Linked DNA regions of Homo sapiens: region 2 is linked to region 1. Evidence: fine-mapped expression QTL. Tissue or cell type: whole blood. Region 1 holds a variant in brackets; the other region holds the start of a gene. All regions are shown on one strand. Distances are from middle to middle.

Region 1 (2,911 bases):
GGAGTTTCACCTTATTGCCCAGGCTGGTCTTGAACTCCTTGGCTCAAGCAATCCTTCCACCTCAGCCTCCCAAAGTGCTGGGATTACAGGTGTGAGCCATTGTGCCCAGCCAGTACTAAAACTATTTAAAAGGAACCCATGAGGCTGGGTGTAGTGGCTCACGTCTGTAATCCCAGCACTTTGGGGGGCCGAGGTGGGTGGATCACTTGAGGTCAGGAGTTCGACCTGTAGTCCCAAATACTTGGGAGGCTGAGGCAGGAGAATTGCCTGAACCCGGAAGGTGGAGGTTGCAGTGAGCTGAGATGGTGCCACTGCACTCCAGCGTGGGCAACAGAGCAAGATTCCATCTCAAATAAAATAAGATAAAAAATAAAAAGAACCCATGAGATATCAAATACTAAGCATATTAAAGAAAATACTGAAATCAATTATATGCAATTATTGATTGATTGCTTAGAGCTTAACAGACTAGATCCTGTGGAGTTTTCTTTCTATCTGCTAGACTAGGGTGCCTTGAGAGAAGGAACCTTGACGCTTTCCTATGTAAAAGTTGTCATACCCTGAAAGTGCCAGGTACAAAGATGACAGTCAATTCATGTTTCTTGTTTAATTCTCAAAGTTATAGTCTAGACATAAGTTACACTAGAGGATTAGAATATATAATAAAGTACGAATTATGTGATATGGACAATGAATCAGTTTAAAATATTTTTGAAGCCAGGAGACATGCCCAATGCTTTTTGATGTCTCCCACAGCCAACGTGGAGTTTGAATGTCTTAGCTCAGTGGTTCCCAACTCTGGTTATACATTAGAATCACCTGTGCAAGTTTTACAACAAGGGATGCCATGACCCTGCTACAGATCCATTAAGTCAGACTGTTCAGGAATGATGTGTGTGTGTGTGTGTGTGTGTGTGTGTGTTTTCCATTTGATCCAATGAACAGTTGGGATCAGGCACTGATCCACTTACATAGTTTCAAATATTCCTAAGCAAGTTGAAGGCACATGGCCAGCTACTAACACACCATTTTCCAAAGCATGAAGTTAAATCACAGTCTGTGAGGCAGACATGGAAAATAGCTAACCACTCCTTTGTGGAAAGGGCTGGGCCAGCTGAGCCTAGCACCACAATGTCAGTGCAATTCTGTGATTATCTCTTGTTCAATGTGCATTTTAAGGTATATATTATATGGGAGAGAGGTATTTGCAAATTTAAGGAGTCAAGAATATGTCAGGATTTAGTCCTCATAAATTTCATGTATTTAGAGAGTGACATAATGCTGTTTGTCCCACAGTATCTACTTACCACTTATTCTTGGTGACAGAATTTTAGCTGGATGCATGACTTTCTAGATTATGACTGCATTTCTTGGACTGTCTTGCAACCATATGTGCCACTGAAGTATGGTCTAGCCAATGGGGTGTGAGCAGATAAATATGTACCTCTTCAGGACTGTTTTTGCTCTCACAGAGGGTTGTGCTCAGATCCCATAGTCCTTTTCTGCCTTTCTGCTCATTGGAAGATAATAAGAATTGAAGAAGTCACTTTGACTGTGAGAGGGAAGTTATAGGTTGAGATGGTAGAGTCAGCTCACCTGCCCTTGCTGCTTACCTTGAACTGTTACGGGAAAGGAACATTCATCTCTATCTTGTTCAAGGTATGGTGATTTGGTAGTCCCTCTCTCTCTCTCTCTCAG[A/G]GAAAATAATGTTATATCTTAACATATACTTAATGTGCTCATTTATGGTGAGTTTGTATAACTGATCTCTTACTTTCTAACTTTATTATTCTCAAATAGAAAAGTAAATATATAACAAAGGACTATTGGGTATGGCATAGGCAGTTGTGAAATGAGTTAATATTGATATAAGCACACATTAGAAAAAAATTTATAGGGAAGGGAATGGAGCTTGGCTTTGAGAAATGGGCAGACATCCTTCAAATTTATTTTTGTTATATACAACTTTGTAAGTGACAGTTTAAATTATCTTAGAAAACAGACCAGGTCTTCAGAAGGCCCTGAAATATATGTCTTTCTTTTTCTGATGGGATCCCAAATGGAGTTTCTTGATTCTTGCCAATGTTAAGTCAGTATTCATTTTCACCACTGAATTTTGAGATATAGAGTGCATTAATCACTTGTACAGAAGCAGAAAAGATATGAACAAACTCAGATTGAAAAGTTGACTTCATGGCAATTTGTTCTCTGAGTCATATTTTTCCCTCCTTTTATCTGGGTTCAAATATGTCATTATATAATTTAGAAACAGATGTAATTCCTCAGCTACAGTGTCTTCTGCTCAATGCCATGTTGTTTCTGCACCTGGTATGACTAAGTAAGCTCTTATCATAGCTGTACTTCCTGTGGAAAACAACTGTCAACTCTGGAGAAAAAAATGTTCTGCAGGCAATGTAAAGAAGAGAGGAAGATTTTAGAGTGGACTTGAAACTTGGAAGAAAGGAATGTCTTAGGTTTTTATTCTAATGATAGGCCCATGTCAGCTCCACCTTGGTGACTAAACCCTGATAGAAAAGACATAAGGGTCTTTCTGTTATGAAATGAGACCACTGGGAAATGAAGGACAATCTTGCAAAAAAGATAGCCAAAAGGGGGAAACCCTAAATTTTGAGTATATACTCTGCCCAAATCTCTGGCTAATTCACAAATCATAGATGTGCAGGATAGACTTCACCAAAAGTTAAAATATTTGTATGAGATTTGAGCTGACATCCAAAAGAAGGTGTGCAGTTCTTGTCAAATGAAGCTAATTGCCCTCTAGAACTCAATTCTTTTTAGAGGACTATAACAGAATCCAGAGTCTCCACCATGTAATATACACAATATCCAATATACAATCCAATATTATGAAACATACAAGGAACCAAGAAAATATAAAGCATTATCAAGAGAA
Region 2 (2,911 bases), 30 kb before region 1:
TATGTGGGGGGTTATAGGCTATATCATGTCCCCCAAAATTCATGCTCAGGCCTAGCCCCCAGTGCCTCACAGTATGACTGTATTTCAAAATAAGGCTTTCAATAGGTGATTACATTAAAATGAGAACATTATGATGGGCCCTAACCCAATCTGACTGGTGTCCTTCCCAGAAGAGGAAATTTGGAACTTCAAGGAGACGCCAAGGATGCAAGCACAAAGGAAAGGTCCCGTGAGAACACAGAGAGAAGGAGGCGGTCTGCACGCTAGAAAGAGAGGCCTCAGAAAAAGCAAACCCTGCTGGCAACTTGATCTCCAGCTTCTCTGGCCACCTGAACTTTGAGAAAACAAATTTTCTATTGTTTAGGCGGCCCAGTCCGTGGTATTTTGTTATGGCAGCCAGGATAGACTAATACATCCAGAGAGGTGGATGGCATAGGGAAAAGGTCAAGCAGGCTTGAGGATGCAGTACTGTCTTAGAGAAGAAAAGGGAGTAACTAGAAGACTCTTACTTCCATATACTACATACACGTGAAACCACCGGTACATGCTAAATGTCCAAAAGTGAAATTCCTGAGAAAGAATAAAAACTATTCTATTCTCAAAGAGCTAAAAAATTTTAAACTCCTAATTCTTCTTTCTTCTTAGCCTATTAACCCACACTCCAACCACCTATCTATATTTCACGTTTGTTAAGACTTTTTTTTTCAGAATTAAATATAATCCCAAGTTTAAGTCCAATACTATTAAGACATAAAAAAAAAACTGCTTTCAGCTCATCTAATGTTTTCAATCTTCGTCTCAATTCTATTTTTTTGAGAGAGTTTCCCTGGAGAATATTATCTTTTTGTTTGTTTTTGGTTTGCTTGACATCATTTTTAAAAGGCATCAGTTAATGAGTAAACACAGAATAAAATATCCAAATAACTGCGCAAACACTGTTACACTGTTAGGCAGTTACACTGTTAGGCAGCAACAGTGCTGATGCTGGACTGTGGCAGGCAGAGGGTGCTATCCTGACACACTTCACCTTAGTGCAGGAAACTTCAATTTGGTGGAAGAAAGGCGATTTCGAGGTGCCAATCTGGGCGACACTTCCCAGTTGGAGAGTCAGCAAAAGGGAGAGGGCAATTCCAAGAAGAGGGAAAAGCTTGTGCACAGGTGAGTGTGTGCAAAGGTGAGTGTGTGCACAGGTGAGTGAGTGCACAGGTGAGATAAGATACAGGAGAGGGAAGAGCCAGAACTGCGCCCTGTTCCCGCAGGAAAGCAGCTCTGCAGGATTAGAGGGGCGGGGACGCGTGGTCAGAGCTAGGAGTTGAGGTCGGGGAGGGAGCCCATGGTCTGCAGGGCCTGGTCAGTCATCCAAGGGCAGTAGTGCGCCTGCAAGTGGGCGTTGAAGAGCCCGTTACACCGGGAAGGGACTTCTCTGTCCCTCGCGCGTGCACCCCCGCCCCCCTCCATGCACCCGGCATAAGCCGCAGAGGAGGAACTCAAACCAGGGTCGGGGCCGCCAGCCACCCGCAGAACGCACACGGAGCTACCTTGGGGCCGACGGCGCGGGGCCTCATTCGGTGTCAGCCCCGGGAGCCGGCGCCTGGGGACCGCGCAGGCCCGCGGAGCCGCGCACCTGGGGCCCCGGGGCCAAGCGTCTGCTCCCGAGCGCCGGCCGTTTATCGCGCACATCTCGCGGCGAGGAGGAGAGGCCGGAAGGGCGCCCCAGCCCCAGGGCTCCTGCCCCGCCTGGGCCTCCGGCTTTCGTTTCCCCGCAACGCTTCGCTTTCGTTTCCCGCTGGCGCCTGGCTCCCTCCGGGTTTCGTTTCCCGCCGGCGCCTGGCTCCCGCCAGGTTTCGTTTCCGAGGCGGGGCCGAGGGCGGCGTCGCTGAGGCGCCCATGGCCTTCGCCCGCCGGCTCCTGCGCGGGCCACTGTCGGGGCCGCTGCTCGGGCGGCGCGGGGTCTGCGCTGGGGCCATGGCTCCGCCGCGCCGCTTCGTCCTGGAGCTTCCCGACTGCACCCTGGCTCACTTCGCCCTAGGCGCCGACGCCCCCGGCGACGCAGACGCCCCCGACCCCCGCCTGGCGGCGCTGCTGGGGCCCCCGGAGCGCAGCTACTCGCTGTGCGTGCCCGTGACCCCGGACGCCGGCTGCGGGGCCCGGGTCCGGGCGGCGCGGCTGCACCAGCGCCTGCTGCACCAGCTGCGCCGCGGCCCCTTCCAGCGGTGCCAGCTGCTCAGGCTGCTCTGCTACTGCCCGGGCGGCCAGGCCGGCGGCGCACAGCAAGGCTTCCTGCTGCGCGACCCCCTGGATGACCCTGACACCCGGCAAGCGCTGCTCGAGCTGCTGGGCGCCTGTCAGGAGGCACCACGCCCGCACTTGGGCGAGTTCGAGGCCGACCCGCGCGGCCAGCTGTGGCAGCGCCTCTGGGAGGTGCAAGACGGCAGGCGGCTGCAGGTGGGCTGCGCACAGGTCGTGCCCGTCCCGGAGCCCCCGCTGCACCCGGTGGTGCCAGACTTGCCCAGTTCCGTGGTCTTCCCGGACCGGGAAGCCGCCCGGGCCGTTTTGGAGGAGGTAAGAGTTCTGTCCGCTTCCAGCTCCCAGCGTGGCATCTGAACCCTTCAGACCAGAGAACTGGACCAAGAGGCTGGTCTGTAGAGCCGGTTCTTGCCTGGGTGGTTTGTTTATTTCCGTTCACAAATCAGGTAGGGAAGGTGTCCTGTATGCCAGGCAACTCTTTTAAGATTCTTGTTTGCAAGGATCTTCCAACCTGACGTGGAACATAGACCTACACCAAGCCACGCGATGCTTGCTGTAAAAGCATCCCAACAGCAGTACAGAGGGAGTAAAGGGGCTGCCGGGAGTGAGGGAAAATAATGTCAGCTGGGAAGTAATTTTATTTGCTGATGATCACCATTCAAGG

What was found. PIP is the estimated chance that this variant, and not a neighbour inherited with it, causes the effect.
Region 2: it holds the start of CMPK2, and the variant in region 1 is the best candidate, but not a certain one, in a credible set for the expression of CMPK2 in whole blood (TOPMed, PIP 0.58).

Annotation. Positions count from the first base shown.
Region 1 is chr2:6,835,051-6,837,961 of GRCh38, reverse strand. The region is part of intron 1 of NRIR (negative regulator of interferon response); the gene reads left to right. Among named protein-coding and RNA genes, the nearest start is that of NRIR, 4.0 kb to the left of the region's middle. The variant A/G (reference allele first, on the strand shown) is at 1,699.
Region 2 is chr2:6,864,673-6,867,583 of GRCh38, reverse strand. It overlaps CMPK2 (cytidine/uridine monophosphate kinase 2), which reads left to right and starts at 1,677. Exons shown (of 5, transcript NM_207315.4): 1 at 1,677-2,562. The coding sequence starts at 1,888. It also overlaps a transcript of RSAD2 not described here. RefSeq lists silencers at 1,417-1,686, 1,927-2,366 and an enhancer at 1,687-1,906.